3 linked regions of the Homo sapiens genome follow. The protein of the gene in region 1 interacts with the protein of each later gene in a pairwise test. Each region holds a gene or a part of one and is shown in the gene's direction. Other genes may lie near its edges.

What was found. The genes of interacting proteins can lie anywhere in the genome.
Region 2: the proteins of KCTD5 (region 1) and FAM193B interact in a two-hybrid assay, tested with the Homo sapiens proteins (one study listed by BioGRID).
Region 3: the proteins of KCTD5 (region 1) and KCTD3 come close enough for resonance energy transfer, tested with the Homo sapiens proteins (one study listed by BioGRID).

Annotation. Positions count from the first base shown.
Region 1 is NC_000016.10:2,692,515-2,699,595, forward strand, and holds part of KCTD5 (BTB/POZ domain-containing protein KCTD5), read left to right. Parts: intron 1-3,420; coding exon 3,421-3,529; intron 3,530-5,391; coding exon 5,392-5,483; intron 5,484-7,081. UniProt on the Homo sapiens protein: Its interaction with CUL3 suggests that it may act as a substrate adapter in some E3 ligase complex. Does not affect the function of Kv channel Kv2.1/KCNB1, Kv1.2/KCNA2, Kv4.2/KCND2 and Kv3.4/KCNC4.
Region 2 is NC_000005.10:177,551,564-177,558,649, reverse strand, and holds the start of FAM193B (protein FAM193B), read left to right. Parts: upstream 1-4,086; 5' UTR 4,087-4,191; coding exon 4,192-4,401; intron 4,402-4,554; exon of another isoform or gene 4,555-5,299; coding exon of another isoform or gene 5,300-5,482; intron 5,483-6,518; exon of another isoform or gene 6,519-6,608; intron 6,609-7,086.
Region 3 is NC_000001.11:215,562,319-215,570,303, forward strand, and holds the start of KCTD3 (BTB/POZ domain-containing protein KCTD3), read left to right. Parts: upstream 1-4,985; 5' UTR 4,986-5,367; coding exon 5,368-5,450; intron 5,451-7,985. UniProt on the Homo sapiens protein: Accessory subunit of potassium/sodium hyperpolarization-activated cyclic nucleotide-gated channel 3 (HCN3) up-regulating its cell-surface expression and current density without affecting its voltage dependence and kinetics.

The DNA of each region.
Region 1 (7,081 bases):
CCAATTGTCTCTGTCCTCTTTGTCCTCTGCCCTGCTCTGGCTGAGCCCAGGGCTCTTATGGACCCAGAGGGAAGGAAGTGCATACTAATTGGTTCATGGGCAGGCCCGGAAAACGCACCACAAGTCCCCACTTTGGTCCCCGGGACTGGCAGCCCGGCCCCAGCCTTCATGCCCTCCCTGGCCTGAAGGTGGGGCCTTACCGGGGACCTACCCCCTTCTTCCCAGGAATCTATCTGCCTCCTGCTGCCATACATGGCGCCTGGGCTCGGCCCCAACTTTGCTCCAAGATCGGAGCAGGCACCAACAATAGGAGTAAGCCAGGCAGTGAGAGCAGGCACTTCTGAGCCTGCAAGGGCCCGGCAGAGGGGCCTTTCTGGGCCCCCAAGAGTGCAGGGATGCCTGAGGCTGTGGTTTGGGCAGCTGCAGTTGTGGGCCTGCCTGCTCCGTGGAGCGGGAAGCCCGGGTCTGCAGCCATAGTTTGGGTGGGGCGAACCCCAGGGCTGCAGCCCCAGGCAGCCCCACGCAGATCCTCCTCCCGAGGCCCGGGAACCTGACATCTTCAGTGGGGTGGGTGTGATGGCTGTGCCACTGGCTGGGTCCTCACCGCTGGTGCCACTCTCACTACCCACCCCAGGCCCCCGAAGCACAGCCCCAGCTCTGCATCGGGGCCCCTCTCCACCCAACCATGCTGCTCTCCTGCCATGCTGAGGGCAGTGGGCTATGGTGTGGGGAGTGGGGTCTGTTCGCCTCCTCCCTGTTCCCTCCCTGCAGCGGCAGGTATCACGTGATGGCAGCAGCTGCACCAGTTGGCCTGCTGCTGGCATCACCGCACTGGGCCAGCTGTGGCCAGACTGAGGTCAGGAGTTCCTTCAAAGCATCAGCCACAAAAGCTGCCTCCTAAAGGGGGTGTTTAATGGAAAAGCCAGCCCCGCCCAGTGGTAGGAGTGGCCAAGACACGGCAGCGGCCTACCCCTGCCTGCCCGTCTTGAGGCCGAGCCCAGTGCCAGCACGCTCAGTGCCCTGCCGGCTCCTTGGACCTGTCTGTGTTCCTCTGTCCTGCTGTGCAGTTTCCGCCGATGGCCGTCCCCACCCTGCCCTCCTTCCCTCCTGCCTTCATCCTTCCAGTTGCAGGGCTGGGGTTGCCTCGTGTGTCTGGGGGCGCCCAGCACGCTTCCTTCTCCTCTTGCACCGGCCCAGGGCCTGAGAAGCACATGGTGGGTTGTCTTGGCCTAGAGGTCACGGCTCAGTGCCCAGGTCCTGCCACAGGTTGGGTGCCCTGGCACTCATGGCGGCCCCGAGCTACACGAGCTGGTCTCCCCCACCTTTTGCTCGTAAAGAAACTGAGGCTTGGGGTGGCCTGGCTGTGAGCCTGCAGTCTGACCACTGAGGCCAGGCCTGGAGGCCTCCATGGCTGACAAAGGGGTTCTCTGGGGTTGTCCTGGGCAGAGGCGAGCCTCCGCCCTATCTGATCTTTCCTGACCTCCTGCCAGCGGTCTGTCGAGGTAGCAGTGAGCCGTGAATAATTCCTGAGCTGAGCGGTGTGCGGACGTCACGCGGCCAGCATTCTCTCTGTATGGGGGTGGGGCAGGGAGGAACCCTGGACTCGGGTGGCAGCACTGGCCGCCTTGCCAGACTTGGGCCCCTTTGTGGGAAATGGTGTCCATTTTTTAGCAGTTGCGCAGGACCGCCCAGCGTCCTCTTCCCGGGAGCTGGCCCTGTGGCCCCGGCCCTTGCTTGAGAGCTGTGGAGTCTGGAGGGCTGGGGAAAGGCAGGGCCAAGCCCAGGAGGCAGGGCCTGTGGGGTGGGCAGCTCTGGCTGGAGTGTTCCGGGGGAGGGTGGGGAAGGAGGATAGGGTCAGGTCTGTGTGGAGCTGGGGTCACCCTAAGGAGTAGGGGGGCCGCCGAGGCTCCGGGTCCAGCGCCCCCATGCCCGGAGCCCTAATTGATTTTATCTCAGCCACAAAACTCAGTCCCTGTGATCTAAAAAGAGCAGGTTGTTGCAGGTTTGCGGTGGTGGACTTTGGGAAAATCTCTTGAGACCACTAGGTCTTAGCACCCAAATGGCAGAATTTGTCCATGGATGAAAATAGGGTCCTAGCGTGGCCCCGTGCTTTGTGGTGGAGACACCTTCGGCCTCCCCATATCTGCGAGCCTGGCATTCCCGTGGCCAGCGCCTGCCCATGGCCCCACAGGAGCCACCATCTGGTGAGGGGGCTGCTCCTGCTCCGAATGGGGTGTGGGGTTGCTTCTCCAGCGCTTGGCCCTGGGCCTCGCCGGGGAGGCTGCCGGTGTTTCTGAACGGAGGCCTCAGCTCCCCGGCCTCCAGGGCACCCGCAGGCACCAGCCCCTGTGGGAGTGGCTCGCAGGTGGGAGCAGGACCCTTGCAGGCATGTGGGGGGAGGCAGGAGCTGCCCCAGCAGAGCCACACGGAAGGTCTGAGTCTGTGTAGAAGACAGGCTGTGCCAGCTTCGCAGTCCCCCCATCAGATGTGTAGCCGACAAGACAGAAACTGCCTCTTCCGTCTCCCCCATGGGGGCTGCCTGGGGCGTCTGAGCCCCCGTCCTGTGTTCACGGCCGGGCCACTGGGGCTCTTGTGCTTTGTGGAAGGGGCTGCAAGGTGTGATGTGTGGGGCACCCCGGGCCTCAGAGGGCATCTGCCCACATTGAAGTGGCCGTGGTAGCAGCAGGGGCAGTGCCTCTCAGGGGTCCCTCCACCCAGGTGCGTGAGGACACCTTCCGAGGGGTCTGTTTTGTAAACATCTCGGCCTCCGTGAGCGCTGAGCCGGGGCGAGGGCTCTGTGAGGTGAGTGATGATCTTGGGGAAAGCCCCGGATGCTGTTGAGTGCCGGTCACTGTGGCCTCCCTCGCTGCTGGCTCCCGGCCTGTTGGGCAGCCGCCCCTGCTGAAAGGTGCCCTCTCCACCCCTGGCAGGAAGCCCCTGTCACCCTGACCCCCGGTTCCTGCATGTAGGCTGCGGAGGACCCGGGCACGAGGAGCGCAGGCCCAGGCTGGTGGCCATCAGAGGTGTCCTTCTGAGGCTGAGCCCTAGGCCCCTGCCCTGCCCGCGAGGGCATCTCTGGGTGAGGTTTTCGTGTGTGTTTTCCTAGAGGTCTTGCAGTTGTGAGGACAGAGGTCCAGGGCACAGTGGGCTCACCTTGGAGTACGCAGAGCCAGGCTGCCTCCGTACGGAGAGACTTAAACTCACTTAGACCTGGGGTGGTGGCTGGTCAGGGTTAGGCTGTAGGCGGCAGGACGTGGCCACACCGTCAGGGGTTTCCTGAGATGCCGCAGGCTCAGGTGTGCTGGGGAGAGGCCTGGGTAACCTGGTGCCTCTGAAGCCTCCTGAGGTGGCCGGGCCTTGGTGGACCTGCAGGAACCTTCGGCTTCTCACGGAGGACTCACCGTGCTCTGCTCTCTTTAGGATGAAACAGGCGCCTATTTAATCGACAGAGACCCCACCTACTTTGGGCCTGTGCTGAACTACCTGAGACACGGCAAGCTGGTGATTAACAAAGACCTCGCGGAGGAAGGTAAGCCGAGTTTTGGGCACAGGTGCCTTAGCTTTGGGGGCAAGGGCCCGACAAAGGTGCCAAGGGCTCCACTTAAGACACAGATGCCTGCAGCCTGGGGCCCCAGGGAGGAGCAGGCCCTGTACTCTGAAGCTGGGGCCGACGTTCTGGTGCTGAGGCCACGGGCAGCGGCGCAGCTGCCGGACAGGGAGGCCTGGGGACCCTGTGGGTGTGGGGTCCTCCCTGGCTGCAGCTCCTTGGAGGGCTCCCTCTGTCCAGGCTCCGGCTGGCGACACAAGGGGTGTGAGGGGTTCCTCCCTGCTGTGACTGAGGTGGTCTGAGCGGGTGTGTGAGGCACATGCCCGGTGATGCCCACGGCGTGCTTCAGGGCCTGGTTCCCTGGCCTGCTCTCCCTCAAGGACAGCCCAAGGGTGGTGAATGTCTCTGTGCCATCACCTGGACTGTGCCTGCTGCTGCCAGCTGCCGTGTTCCATTCTGAGTGATCGTGGTGCAGGGACGGCGCCCACACGCGTTGGGCCCAGGCTGGCCTGCCTGTGTGCTGCGGTGCTGGCTTGGCTCAGAACAGCTCGAGGCCTCGCCGTGAAGGCTGAGGGTTTCTGGGCACCTGCGTGCGGGCGTGGCCCTGCTCCCCCGGGTCCGTGTCTGCGCATCGGTCTGCACTGGGCAGCGTCTGACTCCGTTTCTGTTCTGGGCCTCTGGGCCTCGGCATCTGCCTGCCTCCTCCGAGTTCACGCGGGGCGTGGAGTGACGGGGGCTGTGGCCCAGCCCTGCCCCTGCTCTGAGGCTGTGAGCCATGATCCCCACTCCTGTCTCTTTGGCAGGGAATGTCTTTCACATGTACTCTCTCTGGTCGCTTGGGCAGCCGCTTGTGTTGTCGTGGAGCCGCTCGAGTCGAGGCTTCGCTTTATCTCATTCTGCCCCTAGTGGGATTGGCTCAGAAACGGGCGCTAGACACAGACCAAGGCCCTGCCGCCCAGGCTCACCGGTCTGCCTCTATCCCGCCCCGATGCAGCCACTCACGCCCTGGGTGCTAGAGAAGGGGGCTGTGCGGGACCCATGCGGGGCCGGGAAGCCTGTGTCTCTGAGGCCCTCGTCTCCTTGTCTCTATCCTGCGTGGCCCTGTCCCATGTAGGTGGCTGGGTGTTGTCCTGAGCTGCCATGTGCCATATGTGGGTTCCTCTGGGGTCCTGGAGGAATGAAGACCACCCATGAGGAAGCCCTGAGGCAGGACCTGTGGAATCTGCTCTTAAGGCTCTTAAGGGAGGTTTGCAGTCCCTAAGTGCGGCACATTACGGATGGCAGTCTTTGGGAAGAGCTGGAAGTGACCCTCTCAGCCAGCCACAGTCTTCCCTTTGAATGGGGTCAACTGAGGTGCCAGGTGACTGAGACATATGCACAAGGCCGCAGGCCTGAGCCCCACACAGCACCCCACCCAGTGGCGTGGCCATGAGCAGGTTCCCAGCAGGAAGCGTCGGCCTCCAGGCTTGGAGGGAAAATGCCAGATCCAACCCCCAGCATACCATGGCCTCGGCGTAGACATACGCTGAGCTGCATGTAAGCAGCGGCTCCATACCTGGCGGGTCACTGGAGGTCACTCAAGGTTACCTGGGGTGACCTGAGCTGGAGGTGTTCAGTCCACACATCGGCCCTCTCACCACGGCCCCTCCGCCCATTATCCCAGGAGCCCTGCTGGGCTGACACGTCTGCAGGAAGCCTGTTAGGTCGGGGCCTGAGCAGCTCCCGCTGGGCCGAGCCATGGGCCCTCATTGCAGGGGCAGGGGCAAGGGCAGGGGTGGGTGTAAAGCGTGGATTCTTTGGTTTAGTTTGGTCTGGTAAAGACAATTTATTTTTCCTTATTCCAGGAGTGTTGGAGGAAGCAGAATTTTACAATATCACCTCATTAATAAAACTTGTAAAGGACAAAATTAGAGAACGAGACAGCAAAACATCGCAGGTGAGACAAATGACTGAGGCTGGAAGCTTGTATGGCTGGTGTGAAGGAAGGGCTCCCCTTTACTCCCCCGACCGGCTGCCTCCCAAATAAGTCCTGCGGTCTGGGGCTCTCCTACCCTGAGACCCTTGTCCTCTGTCACTGCCCCAGTGCCTGCCAGCTCCGTCTACCCGGCTCTCCCCAGGGTCCCTTGAAGGATCCATTCATCCTGCCCGGCCCAGACTCTGGGAGCCCCCAAAGGATGGCTCTGAGGAAGTTGGGCACGGGAGACGTGTGTAGGGAAGGAGGGCCCCATGAGGGCCGGTCGGGGAGACCCTGAGGTGGATGGCATCTGGTAGGGAGCAGAGGGTGCCAAGGGCCTGCAGCCAGCATGGCTGGAGGGAGACAGCAGATGGGTCGTGTGGGTCTGCGCAGGCGCCAGAAGGACCTTGGTTTTATTGGGAAGAGGGGCGGCTCGCCACAGACACACCTCTCACAGCTGGCACGGCCCTTCTGCAGCCAGGGGAGCCCAGGTTGTTGGTGGGCTCTGCCCAGTACCTCCTGTGGAGGGGCCACTGCTGGGCCTTGGGCATCAGTCCCGTCCCTGAGAGCTGAGCCCGCCCCCCCCACCCAAGCTCAGCTCCCTTGAGAAGGCACCAGGAGTGGGGTGTGTGCCGCACTGTGGCCGCGGCTGCCATCAGAAGTCTCGGTCCACGTAGAGCCCTGGGCCCTGTGCAGACGCTCCTAGCCTGGCCGCTCAGGGCCGCTGGCCACCTAGCGACTTGCCCAGTTCCCCCTCCTGCTGGAGCTCCCTTGGTGCCACTGAGGGATCTGGAGGGGCTCCTTGTCTGTGGGGCAGGAGCTGCGTCCCGCGCCCCGGGTCACCTTGTCCAGTCTGCTTTTTTCCCTGTTGTGTGACCGGGCTGTGTGGGCACTCCCTGCCTCAGTCTACCTACCTGTATGACGCAGGTGGGCAGGAAATGGTGCAGGTGGGAGAGTCTGCGGTCCAGCCTTGCTGTGACACAGTAGCATCTCACTGTCTTGCAGAATAAAGCAACTCGGGCATGTGACCTCGAGGCCACTGTGTGCCTTTGTCACTCAGGCATCCCTGGCATGAGTCACCACCTTAAGGTCAGGGACCCAGGACCTCTGAACCCCTTCTCACTGCTGCGTTTCCGTCCAGCCCCGTCTGCAGCCTGAGTCCTCCGTAGTGACTGTCCAGGATGTGGGGCCACCCCGCCCACTGGGGAGCAGCTCCATGCAGGCGGGCGGCCCTGGTGGCTCACCATCACTCCCAGGACCACAGCTGCCTGGAGGGGCACAGCAAGCGTGCCAGGCAGGTGGGGGATTAGGAGGTGGATGGAGTTTTAGGAAGCAGCTCAGCCTTCGGGAGGCCCAAGTCCAGGCTGCCGCGCAAGTTCAAGAGCCTTTTTCTGGTAGCTGGGAGCGAGCTTCGTCTGGCACTGGCTCTCAGGGCCCTGCTTGCCAGAGCCTTTCCCGACCGATGAATTCAGGGCTGCACGGTTGCTGCGTGCGGAGCAGACGTGGACGCTCTCGTGTCGTCATGTCGAGCCACAGGTGCTCTTGGGATTTCAGGAACATGACTCATTTTATTTTGGAAC
Region 2 (7,086 bases), on another chromosome or scaffold:
CGCCCAGCCTGTACTGGGCTTTAAATATATTTTCTTCCAGTTCTCAGAGCAGCATAATAAGCTAATTTAATGCATGAGAAATGTTTGTCATGACTGCTCATCAGCACTGAATGGATACAAAATGTGATACTTCCATACAATGGAATACTACTCTGCAGTATAAAGGAATGAGCTATCTAAACACGCTACAATATGGATGAATCAAAATAATTATGCTGCAGGAAAGATGCCTGGCAAAGCAGAATACATACTGTATGAAAATGCAAAATATTCTGTAGAAACAGAAGGCAGATCAGTGCTGCCTGGGGAGAGAGGAAGAAGTAGGAGGGAAGGATTATCCTCTGGGGGAACCATACAGTGGAATTCTCCCCAATGGCGCGTGAGTAAAAGTGATGTATATTCATTTCTGGGTACAGCTCATAGAAATGTCCCATGCAACCCTCACTTTTTTGCCTTTCCCATCCTCTGGATGAATGAAGAGGACTTTGAGAGCCGAGGTGAAGACAGAGCCACAAGATCCAAGGAGACTGGATCCCTGAGTGACTGCAAAGTCCCCTTCAACAGGCATTGGCCTGCGACACGAGGTAGACGAGATCTAAGGTGTTAAAACTCTTGCTATGTGAGGTTGGTTTGTTACAGCAGCTAACCAGCCCTAATACATAGTCCAAAGTAATCATCCTGCTAGAAGAGAGTCAGGTGTGCCCCTCAGAGTAAGGTTCCACACGGACCTCTGGCTGGTTCCTGCAAATTGGACTCAGCACTGAGAGTAGATAGGTCAGCCAGCCTCAGGGAGGAGACAGTCCAAATTGCTGAGCCAGTTTTCTCATGCAGCCATTGAATAAGTTCTTAAATAGCTGGGAAGAGACAGTCTGACAGCCACAGAAGGGGCCATACTGCCCATCGGACTTTTAAGAGGTTCTTTTGATGAACGTTCATCTGGGACACAAATAGCCTTATGTTCTGAAGCCATTCTGGACAATCTTTCCACATCTGTCATCCTCAGAACTTCCTGTCACTAAGCCTGCAGTCTTTTTTTCCCTCAAGTCCCTCAACAACAGAGTAAATCATGATCCAATGGCCAGGAATTGATGTGTCTTTATTTCAGGGTCTTTGCGTGGATTTCCCTTTTCTGTGCCCTTGGGCCCTGTCTGAGGAAGACTAGAACACTCTAGCAATTTGCTTCTGGCTGGAGCCAGCACACCATGCAGAGCCATCTGCAAACTGGACTTTGGATTTTTCTTCCTTAGTCAACTCATCATTAAACCGTTCATGAAACCACTGATCCAGGTTGAAGGATGGAATGGAGAAGAGGGTGGCAGCAGAGGAATGTAAGTAACTTGCTCTGGCAACCTACTTGTGCTTTAGGACTTGCATGGACCCAACCCACACATGTCACTTCCTCTCGATGACAGGGTGTTGCTGAGCACCCCTGATTTTATGGCTGAGTAGATCAGATAACACTCAGTTCAGGTCACGTGGTCACCTAGTAGGCCAGGATCAGGCATCCAATTTCACCAGACCCCTGAAGCAAGCCAGGAGCTATTTCTAAAATGGAATATAACTATTTGCTGAAGGAAAGCATAAGTTTGCTCCAAAATCCAATGCTTGAGTATTAAGACCAAAGCCAGAACTATTTACTCTGCAGCCTGGTCCACTAAGAAAAGTTTCTCTTTTTGTATGATCCTGCCTTAAAGTTGGCAGCTTTCAAGTGACCCAGTAACTGGTCAAAATAACGTACCTAAGTACAGGCCGGGCGCGGTGGCTCATGCCTGTAATCCCAACACTTTGGGAGGCTGAGGCCGGAGGTTCAGGAGGTCAGGAGTTCGAGACAAGCCTGACCAACATGGTGAAACCCTGTCTCTACTAAAAATACAAAAATTAGCTGAGCATGGTGGTGCGCGCCTGTAACCCCAGCTACTCCGGAGGCCAGCAGGAGAATCACTCAAACCCGGGAGGCAGAGGTTGCAGTGAGCAGAGATCCCGCTACTGCACTCCAGCCTGGGTGGCAGAGATTCCATCTCAAAATAATAATAATAATAATAATAATAATAATAATAATAATAATAATAATAATGTATCGAAATACATCTATGTTACCTACCAAGTCTAAAGAAGCCCCAGCCCAAGTATTGCACCTCTTCCCTAGTAGGGAGTGTGATCTACAGCAGCTTTCCCTTCACTTTGTACGAAATATCTCAACATATCCCAGACTCCTAGATGGCTTACTGCGAGGCCCCTATATATTTGTGAGATTTATTATCCATCCTCTGGCACACACATCATGCCTTACCAAATCATCCAGGATATCTGCTATTCCCTTTTCTTAAGGTCCATCAAGATGATGTCATCAGTGCCTCAGCAGATTAGCCTGATATCCATTAGAATGGAGATTTAGTAAAAAAAATCCCTGTAAACTGGCAGGGTGCAGTGGCTCCGCCTGTAATCCTAGCACTTTGGGAGGCCGAGGCAGGTGCATCACCTGAGGTCAAGAATTCGAGACCAGCCTGGGCAATACGGGGAAACCCCGTCTCTACTAAAAATACAAAAAAATTAGGGGGCGTGGTAGCATGTGCCTCTAATCCCAGCTAATCTGGAGGCTGAGGCACGAGAATCCCTTGAACCCAGGAGGCGGAGGTTGCAGTGAGCTGAAATTGCGCCACTGCACTCCAGCCTGGGAGATAGAGTGAGACTCTGTCATTAAAAAAAAAAAAAAAAAAAATCCCTGTAAACTAAGTGGCTGGGTCCAGAGTGTGACATACCCTGAAGCAAGACAGTGAGGGTTTACCGCTGCCCCTGCCAGATCAATGCAAGGGATTCCTGGTGTTTGGTACAGAAGAATAACCATTGACCAGACCTCTTGTTGCCTATTAGAGACCAACAACTGTGCTGATCTGTCCCAAGAAGGACCGCATCTGGAAGAATGCCTGCAGTTGGGGTTCTTACCAGAATAAGTAAGTTTATCATAATGCTCTGTTGTTCTTCAAGGCCGTCTCTCTTCTGTTCTGGGCAAACTGAAGAGGTAATGGTGATGTGATGGGACTCACCCTGCGTCTTTCAAATCTTTGATAGTGGCATTAATCCCTGGGTGAGATAAGGTACTATTTTTGATTTATTTTCTTGGTAGTTAAGGAGAGCTCCAGGGCCTTCCATGTAGCTCTTCCTTTCAAAATAGCCCTTGCCCCATGGGTTAGGAAGCCAGTGTCAGGATTCCGCCCCTGTTGATACCAATAGCAACTCTGCATATAACCACAATTTCAGAGTACATAGCCCAGGCATGAGACAGACTTCACTCAAAACTTTTTTTTTTTAATCTGTGCCATGTACATGTATTATACAGTATATTCACAAAAAGAGGGGGGAAATTCCATTTTTAACAATTAAATACATAATTATTAAGTTTTAAAAATTCTCCTTTGTGTACCACTCCAAAATCCTCTCCTGCACATACTATTTTTTTGGAAACACCTAGTCGTCTCATCGTTATCACACCGGTTGTAACTATGTACCTACGTGTCTACCTTCCCCATCAGACTCGGGAACAAGGAGTCGGGTTTGAGTCCCACTGTCCCAAGCACAGAACGCTGGACTCCCAGTAGACCATATGTTGCAAATAAAGACCTTCGTCCCTTTCAACTCAGGCCGTCCACGAGCCCAGGAGTTCCAACAAAATGATGTACAGCAACCTTTTCCAGGCCTTTATGTTGCCTCAATATTTCTCACCTGCAAAATGGGAATGATCCGTACCTGCCTCGCTGTGCTGTCGGAAGGAGTCAGACGATGGGTGTGAAAGTATTGTAACACTATAGAAATTAATTCACTCATCCATTTAACAGGCAATTATTAAGTGCTAGGGTGGTGCAGCGCGATTACCACCGCATTACACGCGTTCCTCCAGCAGGTTGCATCCTTCCCGTCCCGCGTAGGGGGGGAAGGGCGTCTCCCCACCAAGTTTTTCTCCCAGCGAACTCCGGGTGGTGACCTTATTCAAAATGGCGCAGGCGGCCTCGGGGGCTAGTGCGGCGGCGCGGACTCCGCGTGCCCTCTGACCTGTTGGCAGCAGGCGGAGGGGGGGAACCGGGCGCCGCCATATTGGCTGTTGTCCTGTGAGGGGAGCGGTAGCGGCGGCGGCGGCGGCGGCGGCGGCGGCGGCGGCGGCGGCGTGTGGAGCGAGGGAGCGGCGCGAGCGGCGGCATGACGCGGAGGCGGAGCAGGCCGAGCGGCGGTGCGGGCAGGCGCGAGCGGGCTCGGGCCGCGGGGCCGCAGAAGCCCCAGGCGCCCGAGCCCCCGCCGCCGCCAAGCCTGGAGGCGGGAGCGGGTGCAGGCCCTCCGGAGGCGCCGGCGGAGCCCGACCACGACGGCCCCAGGGAGGATGACGAACCCAACCTGGTGCCCGGCCCGCAGGTAGGAGCGAGCGGGGAGACTTCGGCGGCTCGGGCGCTTTCACCTTCCCCGAGCGGGAGCGGGAGTGGGGCGGGGTTGGGGATGGGCCATCCTGCCGCGGCTGGGGTAGCAGCCTTCCCCCGGGTCCGGCGCCGAAGCTTTCTCCCCCGGGGCGGGAATGGAGGCTGGACCCCTCTCCCCAAAGCCGAGGCTCGGTCCGCGCTCCTGCGACTAGGCTGAAGCTGCTCCCCTCTCCCCGCCGCCTCCGGGCGTTCCGGCCGTACACCCACACTGGGACTGGGACTGGGACTGGGCTGTGATCCCGAGGCCGCAGCTCCGCTCTCGGCCCGCCACCTCCCCCGGGCCCACCTGCTCCCTCAGCCACAGGCCATCTCGGGGCTCTGGGACTGGACGACTGCAGCCTCTTCCCTCTGCCCCCGGGAACGGCTCCACTCCGTCCCCTGCAGCGCCTGCAGCCGCGGCCCCCTCAGCAGCTGTGTCTCCTGGCGCCTCCTCGCCATACCCAGCAGAGCAGTTGGAGCAGACAGCCAGGCTGCCCGGAGGAGTTTTTGGTGGGGTTTCTGCACTGAGGTGGAAACCCAGCAGAACCTGCCCTTCTTCCCTCCCCTGCTCCGCAAGGCAGCCCACCCCGACCTTGAGATCCCAGGTTTGGAGAATCCTGCTGAGAGCGAACAGTAGGAGGATTCCCCAAAGCTTCCAGCTTGCCACCTGGAAGAAGGTCACTTTCTTTTGAGCAAAGGAGATAACGGGAGGTACCCTGCCAAAGTTCACTGAGAGGCGGGGGTGACATGGGCCACGGTTGCTCTGGGAGGGTTGTGGCACTCGGGGCTGGGTGGCTCTCCCTAAGCTTGCTCTGACAAAAGAGTTTTGAGTTGGTCTTTTGGCTGAGCCTGCCCAGGAAGGCAGGCTCCTGCAGGAGTCTTGGAGGGTCGGATGCGGCGCCGGATGAGGATGAGGCGTGGCGGAAGATGCGTTTGGCTCTGCAGACACTGCATCGGGCAGCAGGGGACTCTGGGAGGCTGGTGCAGCCAGAAGGCATGGCTCTTGACAGCCTTCTAGTAGAATCTCTGGAATTGTGCATGTGAGTGGGGTTGCCGTTTGGGGTACCTTCCCACAAAGCCTCCCCTGACCTCCCCAGTTGCGTCAGGTGCCCTCTCTGTGCCCACAGCCCTCTGTGCCTCCCTCTGGTAGCACTCCCCTTTCTGTGATGAAACATTGTGTTGATATGTCTGTTGCCTGCCCTGGACTGTGAACTCCACAGGGACACAGGCTATGCCATCTTTCTCTGATCTTCCACGCCTCGCCCAGGGCCTTGCTAACACAGAATAAAAATAACTAGGTGAATGAGAGAGAAAATGAATCGGTCCAGAACCCGTGCTTATTGTAACCCAGTTTTCATGCTGATTTCCTTTGTGTCTCAGATCACAATAAGGTTTTTAATTAATGAAAATGTCAGCACTTACTGAGTGTCAGAAGCTCCACCTTCATCCGCATCCCCATCTCCTATCCTAGGCTGACACTTCCGTAGGAGACTCCCCAGGTTGGACCCCCAACCCCTACTGGGTCTAGCTTCCAACCCCAAAGCTGCTTCCCCCACCAGCCTACTCTGGGACCCCCGTGGGAGTGCTGTTATCCAAAAAGGGAGAGTGGGAGAAGGGAGAGCTGGAAAGCTGTTGTCTTCTCTTCTTCCCATTCAGCAGACCATAGAATACTTCAGGGTCTCTGCCACATAGAGATGCCAAAAAGCTTGGATGATGGCTCAACCATTCAGTTTTTATTAAGGACACAACTTTGCCAAGAGCTCTAAGCTTCATCAATTTCTTTGACATCTAGGTTCCTACCATGTTCTTACCTACTCCACTACTTGACCTGCTGATTCATTTATTTGTGCCAGGCACTTTACATACCTTACTTCTAATCTTCCCACCTCACCTGTATTTCTCCGCAGCGTTTAGCACAAATATGATGAATTGACCATTGATGTGATTATTTGTTTTTATTTGTGAACTCTGCGAGTTCAGGAGCCATGTCAGTCACCATTGTACCCCTGTGCCTGGTGGTTAACAAATATTGATCAACAAACTGGAGGATATAATTATCATTACTCCATTTTTCAGATGAAGAAACAGAAACTCAGAGCAACTAAACATTTGCCCAAATGACTCCAACTGTAGGTGTCAGACAAAAGAAAAGAAAAGGACTTTTAGGTACTTTGGGGGATTTTCAACAAGGCATTTTTTTTTAAACTATAGCCCCAAAGAAGGGAAACAAACTGGTAAATTCGGTTCTAGTTATGCCCCACTTTGACCGGGGGTGGGGTCTGGAAGCAGGCTTTTGTGCCCTGGTGCAAAGCACCTAGTGTAAGGGTAGGGTTCAGTCATTGCTCTGCCTACAAGCGTGTTTTTGGTGAGGAACTCTGGCTCCCATTGCCACTCATAACCCTGTCTTACATCTACAGAGTGGATAAGGAAGATGAAACTCAGTGTCATATACCAAACTGAATCCAAAGGTGGCAAATAAGACCACTTCCAGTCCACAGGCTTGTTGTAATGCCCCAGCTCACATATTGTTTTGTTTCTGTTTTTATTTTCATTTGAGCCAATATTTTAAAGATCAAAAGGTTTCCCACACATTTGGATTTGGGGCTCTTTTTTAAACTAAAGATATGGTGATGCTGGGTCCACT
Region 3 (7,985 bases), on another chromosome or scaffold:
AATCCCATCTCTACTAAAAATACAAAAGTTAGCCAGGCATGGTGGCAGGCACCTGTAATCCCAGCTACTCGGGAGGCTGAGGCAGGAGAATTTCTTGAACCCAGGGGACAGAGGTTGTAGTGAGCCGAGATCATACCACTGCACTCCAGCCTGGGCAACAGAGTGAGACGCTGTCTCAAAATAATAATAATAATAATAATAATATCTAAATATAGAGTGGGTTAGAAGATAACAATAATAGCAGCAACAACGAACACTGGGCAAATTACTGATCCTCCTTGTGGCTCAGTTTCTTTATCTTTACTTGATGCCTAGATATCTTCCTCATTTACTCAAAGACGTTACTCTAATAATTATCTTCTGCCTCTCTTGAATGGTCAGATTTTTGCTACCTACTGATTGCTTTTCATCAACGTGGTTATTTTTTTTTAAAACATCTTTACAAAACATTCTCTTGGCCTTACTTCCCTAGCTTGCTACTGTCTGTTTCTTAGCTCTTCTTTATAGCAAAACCCCACCAATTATGCTTTTTCTCCCACTTCTGCACTAGAACTGCCCTTACTTCCACCACACTATTTTTCTTCATGTCACTAAATCCAAAGTCAATTCTTAGTTCTTATCTTACTTGTCCTGTGATCTCATAGGACCCCATGCTCCCTTGGTTTTCCTCCCATCTGGCTGAAACTCCTTTCTAGTTTCCTTCACTGGAACTCCTCCCCAGTCTCTTAATATTGGATAGTCAAGGGCTCCATTCTGATTTCTATTTTTGTCTCATTCTACACTCACCTCCTTATGATTTTAGGCAGTCTCATGGCTCTAACAGCCATCTATATACTACTCATTCCCAAAGTTTTATTTCAGTAAAAATAAGAGAATTTTTAGCTTAGTTCTCTTTCTGAAACTTCTAGGTCCTTTATACAACAGCTTACTCAACATCTTACTTGGATATCTAATACAACGCTACTTTAAGTGTGGTTACTACTTTTAGTGTACTACTTTTAGTATAACCACACTTCAAGTAAATGCTACTTTAAGTGTGCTACTTAAGTGATAATAAACACTACTTTAAGTGTGGCCACTTAAGTGTGGTTCATGAATTGATGCCCATCCACAAACTGTGAATAGTCTGCAATTAAATAAGCACAAAAATGAGACTAAGAGGTTGGAAACTTTTTTTTTTTTTTCTGAGATGGACTCTTGCCTTGTCACCCAGGCTGGAGTGCAGTGCTGCAATCCCAGCTCACTGCAACCTCCATCTCCCAGGCTCAAGTGATTCTCCTGCCTCAGCCTCCCGAGTACTTGGGATTACAGGAGCGTGCCATCACGCCTGGCTAATTTTTGTGTTTTTAGTAGAGACAAGGTTTCACCATGTGGCTAGGCTGGTCTCGAACTCCTGACCTCAGGTGATCCGCACACTTTGGCATCCCAAGTGCTGGGATTATAGGTGTGAGCCACAGTGCCCGCCCGAGCTATATATATATAAAGGGGAGTTTACCCATCACAGAACTAATGGAATATACATATATATATTCCATATATATAATATATATTTATAAATACATATATTATAAAACATATATATATTCCATTAGTTCTGTCCCTCTAGAGAGTCCTGACTAAATCACCCCATAAATTGGAAATTGAACTAGTTCTTACCTGAGATAGTTTGACAAGGACTGGTCGAGTAGACATCACAAATTCAATATAGTCACTAAAGAAGGTAATATTATTTAAATAATGTTTTATTTACTTTGTATTGCCTAAATATTAAAATAACATAAACTTTAAAAAGCTGTCATGGGGACAACCTTGAATGTATCTACTCTATTTATTTACACATTCATACATACATACAGGTAGTACATGAAAGAAAACTCACTGTAAACAGTTAAACAATATGAAAGACCATAGGGGTAAAAGGTTTTGTCCATTCACCACTGCTACCTTCTCCTCACTGATTCTAATGATCTGTCTAGAGGTTATGTTTCTTCGTAGTTTAATATGTATTTTTATATAGAAATATAAGTGGATATACACATGATTTTAGTTTTTCCATTATTTAAATGAATGAGATTGTACTCATAATGTATTATTCTGTAATCTGATTATTTTCCCCACTAAATCATATACTTGGAGATCATTTCTGGTCAGTTCACATGAATTTGCCCCCAAAATAGTAATAGCTTCCAACATAATTTTAAAAATTATTCCCTTGTTGTTGAATATTCCATGTTTTTGCTATTATAACACTACTACCATGAATATGCACTTACTTCTTTGCATGTACCTTTGCCAATTGAGCAAAATGTGTATAGGATATATTTTTAGAAGAAAAGTGCTGGGTCTAGGGTATTTACATTTAAAATGCTGATATTCTTGAGGTGCCCTCCAGAAACTCTGTACCCATTCATAATTTAATCAGCAATGCATGAGTATGATCATTTCACACTCTCACTGTCCTTGAATTTTATCAAACCTCTCTTAATTTTTGCTAATCTCATGAGTAAAAATACATTTTTTGTTTTATTCATTTATTTATGTATTTATGTATTTATTTTGAGATGGAGTCTCGTTCTGTCGTCCCAGCTGGAGTGCAGTGGTGCGATCTCAGCTCACTGCAACCTCTGCCTCCCAGATTCAAGCGATTCTCCTGCCTCAGCCTCCCCAGTAGCTGGGACTACAGGCGCGCACCACCACGCCTGGCTAATTTTTGTATTTTTAGCAGAGACGGGGTTTCACCATATTGGCCAGGCTGGTCGCGAACCCCTGACCTCGTGATCCACCCACTTCGGCCTCCCGAAGTGCTGAGATTACAGGTGTGAGCCACTACACCCAGCTTTCTGTTGTTTTAATAAGCATTTTAGTGTTTTTATCAATTGGCTGTTGATATTCTTTCCATATTTTTCATTACTTGTTTTCTCAATTTATTTGTAGAATAATATATACATATATGATCAGATATTATATATTTTCAATCATTTGATATATGTTGCAAATATCTTTTCTCATTCTGCTATTTGTTTTTGTTAATGGTGTTCCAATTTATTCTTAAAAATTAAGTCACACCCTAACTTTAAGTTTTATGAGCAAGAAATGCCTCAGATATCTCTATATTGTTCTGGACATATCAAGAAGTCATGACCATTTGTCTTATAAAATACTGAGAACTTTTCCTTCTCTTGAAGAGATGTTCTCCTAATTTTTAAGTACAGTATAATAAAATGAACACGGTTTCATTTATTTCAGGAAAAATAAGAAGCCTTTCACAAATATATATATTTTTAAATTTATAAGGCCTTATTCTAACTCCAACTTGCCTCTTGGATTCAAAGGCTGTTAGCAACTATTCTTTCATATTCTTCCAAGGTTTGGACCTAAGGAAAATTAAATGGCCCTTTTACCACTTAAATCTTCGCTGCAAATTTTAAAGCAAAGTTTCAGATCCTGATAGAACCAGATATTATGTGTTAGGGCAAAGGCAGTTAACATTGTTTAAAGCAAGCTTGTCCAACCTGCAGCCCCATGGGTCGCATGCAGCCCAGGAAAGCTTTGAATGTGGCCCAACACAAATTCATAAACTTTCTTTCTTTCTTTCTTTCTTTTTTTCAGCTCATCAGTTATCGTTAGTGTTAGTGTATTTTATGTGTGGCCAAAGACAATTCATCTTCCAATGTGGCCCAGGAAAGCCAAAAGATTGGACACCCTGGTTTAGATTCCTAGTTGCTGCTGCTTTAATCTGAACTGTTACTCATCTTCCCTGTCTAAAGTGAAGATAATGAGGTACAATGCAGTGGTAAGGATGGTGAACAGTGGCCTTGAATTCAAGCTGCTTGCCTTGAAATTCCTGCCATCCCACTTGCTACCTATGTAATTTTGAGCAAGTTTTTTTGATCATTTTCATTCCCAAATTTCCTTTTTTAAAAATAATTATAACATTAGTTGTGACGAAGAAAGATGACAAAATATCTAAACCACCGGGTATATGATAAACACAAATTAGCTATTATTAAGCTTATCATCAACTGGGAGAAATAATACTTATCTTACATCCATATGTACTATTAACATCTTTCAAGTCGAATCTAGATAGAGCATATCACAACATTAGTATGCTTGCCAGAGGCTATTTTTTATTTTTTTGGTAAAAATTATGACAATGACAATAAAAACTTAACATCAGATACATTATCAGTTTGAATTATTATGATACAACTATGACAAAACAATTCATGTTAAGAATTTAGTACCACAAACTAATGACCTCTGAAACATAACGCACTATCTTTGTTAGTCTTTGTTAGCAGGGCATCAAGTATTATAGTATTCCGATTTAAAAAATATTTTAATAGCCACTAAGGTTTTGGGTTTGAATAGATACCGTTTAAAGCAAAAACAAATAAATAAACAAGCGCATAAAATTGTGTGTTTTCTGCGTGTGTCTAACATTAGTTGAGTGCTTACTATATTCCAGAAATAGGTTGCTGGGCATTACACAGTCTAGGGGTTTTTGTCCTTTGGTTTCCTTCCTGCTTAACAAACAAAAGCAAAAAACAAAACAAAAAAACTGCTTGGGAGATTGGGGATTAAATTGAAGAGGGTAAAGTAAGCAGTTTTCTGGGGTAAACGCTGTAAGGTTTTAAAATCTCCAAATGTTCCCTGCATTTGCACTGTCTACATTTAGGCATCAACTTTTACTACCTCTAGGATTAGTTTTTCCTTTCCCAATCCATGTTGACAAAGTGGGTCATAAAGATCCGTAGATCGTTTGCCCAGATCTGCCCTCAATCTGCGAATCAGCTTCCTCGTTTTAGAAAATCTGAAATGTAAAAGGGAAAGGGGCTGGGATCGCGTGGGGAGGAGGAACGAAATGGAATCCCGCGTGGGCAGGCGGCTGGCCAGGAGCACATTCCCCTAGCCTCCCTACGCGCCAGCCCCGCGGCGTTGGGAAGCTCCTCCCTGACCTTTCCTTCCTCCTCCTCCTCCTCATTCTAGGCGGCAGTGGCGGGCGAAGCGTGAGCGCTGCGGTATTTTGTCCCGAACGGTGACCCCTCCTCCCAGGCAGGCTGCGGCGGCGTCGGTGGCAGCGGAGCACGGAGAAGAGGCCCGGGCGGCCCGGCGGCCTGGAGGCCGCGAAAGGTGGAGGCCGGGCCGCCCTTGTGCACCGCAGGATTGACCCGGGAAGGGGCAGAAGCTAGCGAGCCCCGCCCGGCCGCCGGGAAGGTGGGGGAAGCCCCGTGCACCCCCCGCCCTCCGGCCGCCGCCGCCCCGCTGGCCCTGCAGCCGTCGCCGCTGCCTCGGGCTACAGCCCCGGGCTCGGCGGTCCCGGCTGGGGAAGGAGGGCGGCGAGCGCGTCCGGAGCCGCCGGAGATGGCGGGAGGGCACTGCGGCAGCTTCCCCGCGGCGGCGGCCGGCAGCGGCGAGATCGTCCAACTGAACGTAGGGGGGACCAGGTGAGTCGGCGGGTAGCGGGCTTGCAGCGGGGATGCCTTGGCGGCCTCCTCCTTTGGTGTCGACGGGGACCGAGAGTCGCAGGAACGAGGGCGAGCGTGGGAGGCCAAGCCTGGAGGGGAACGTGGGGGCCTCCAGGCGGCAAGAACGTCGGGCGGATTTTGGAGCTGGTGAAGCATCTGCTCTGGGAAGGGAGAGGCAGAAGGGACGCTTGGAATTACCGAGGACCAGGCCCATGTGGCAGAGTAGCTGCTGTCCTAGAATGCCAACCTTTGCCCCTCCCAACAGGCAAGGAGAACCATTACACAGCCTTCCTTACCTCATCTCAGATTAGAGTGTATTTGAGGACTTTATTTAGTAGAAACCTGGCTTTGTGGTTTGGATGTTGGAGATGAACTTGCTTTCCTTTCTCTTTGGTCAACGAGGTGTCGGTTTTCTTAGGGAAGAGTGCGGTGTTCTTTTCCGCGCCTAATTAGGGGATTTGTAATTTGAAAGATTTCTGTGATGGGAGTGCAGTAGGTTTGCAGTACCTAGTTATTTATTTTCAGAATTTCTTGGTGCATGGGCTTGAAGGATCTGTTCAACTTCTAGGACAGTGTGTCCAGAAACTGCAGTTTGAACATTTGCTTTTAGGAAGCTCTGGATATTGGCACGGTGTGACGCCCTTGGAGTAAACAGACTGAATGCTCTTCTCTGTCTGTTCTCTTTCTGGCCTTCCGCCCCCCCCCCCCCCCGCCCCTTCTGTGCCTGTTATTAAGTTTGTTGGGGGAAAAAATCGTAGTTTTTGTGGATTTCCTATAACTTATGAGTCACTCCTCTCAGAAAAGGGAGTTTGCCAGCTGTTTGAAAGAAGGATTAGTTGAGTTTTAGGCTTGGTAAGGAGATAAACAAGGAAATGCTCTGGAATACAGTTAATTTTTCTGTGCTTGAGAATATGATTTTCAACCAGCATTTTAAAAGTATTTTAATGTCTTAGAACCATAGTGATAAAAAATGTCTACTGTAGTGCTTTAATCCTAAACATTTGATAGCTTTCTAGAATTTAACACAGAAAACCATGGTACTTCGTTCTTAGGGTTTTTCCTCTTCCCCCAAATCAAAACTTAGATAATTTACAACGTTATTGCAGTTGTATAGAAACCAGTCTTATGGAGATTTATGTCTCCTAATGTAAGAAATGGAGTTTTTCCTAAAATCACGTTAAAATATTGGAAGTTTGGTAACTTGTGGAATACCCCTAAAGAGGAGGCCTGCAATGTGTGTTGATTATACTGAAGAGTAGCAGTATAATCATTTACAATCCCTACACTGGTTTCTACTTGCTATTGATAGTTAATGTATTTCTTTTCTTTAATTTTCTTTTTTTTTTTTTTTGAGACGGAGTCTTGCTCTGTCGCCTGGCTGGAGTGCAGTGGCGCGATCTCGGCTCACTGCAGCCTCTGCCTCCCAGTTTCAAGCGATTCTCCTGCCTCAGCATCCCGAGTAGCTGGGTCACAGGCGCGCGCCACCACGCCCGGGTAATTTTTGCATTTTTAGTAGAGACGAGGTTTAACTACGTTGACCAGGATGGTCTTGATCTCCTGACCTCGTGATGCTCCCGCCTCGGCTTCCCAAAGTGCTGGAATTACAGGCGTGAGCCACCGCGCCTGGCCGATAGTTAATATATTTCTATTCAGACATTCACAAGGACATACAGTATTATTGTAAAAATTAAGCAGTATTGTTATTTACTATGTGGATGGCTTAATACTGAGTGAACTCTTATTAGAGACTGCAGAATTCATTTAAAAGTTTTAACTCATAAGGCAGTTATCTTGGCACTGTAACTTTTTTTTTTTTTTTTTTTTGAGACAGAGTCTCGCTCTGTCATCCAGGCTGGAGTGCAGTGGTGCGATCTCGGCTCACTGCAAGCTCCGCCTCCCAGGTTCGCGCCATTCTCCTGTCTCAGCCTGGCACTGTGACATTTTATCTTGTGTTTACATTATTTATGAAACTTGAGCTTATCAGGTTCTAATTTTTTCTAAGTGATATTAGCAAAGATACAAAATAGTACATATATTACTGGTTTGAACAGTTTACAAGACATGAAATTGTTAGTGGGAATGGAAACATTAAAAAACTTCAGAAAATTGTTAAGATAAAATGGCTTATAAAATAAGTAGTAATGGTATGGCCCGTAGAAAACAACATCCGACTCCATATTCTAAGAATATTTTCTAGATTTGCTTTGAATCCTACACTCGTGCAGCATTTTAGAGCTAGATGAGATCTAGAAGTCACCTGTATCTTGTACAAAACACAGTGTAACATAGTCACTTAAGCCACTGTAAGAGAAAAATCCTGATATGATTGCCACTGAAGTTCAGGAACTGCTGTGGCATAGAATTGAAGTTCTGAAGTGATAGAGTAAAACTCAAAAGGAGAGTTTGTTGGGAGCAGAGAAGCATATGCTATCGGTAAGGTCTTTTTTTTTTTTTCCCTCAGGAGAATAGACATGAAAATGGATATACTCAAAGGAATTATAGAAATGACTAATT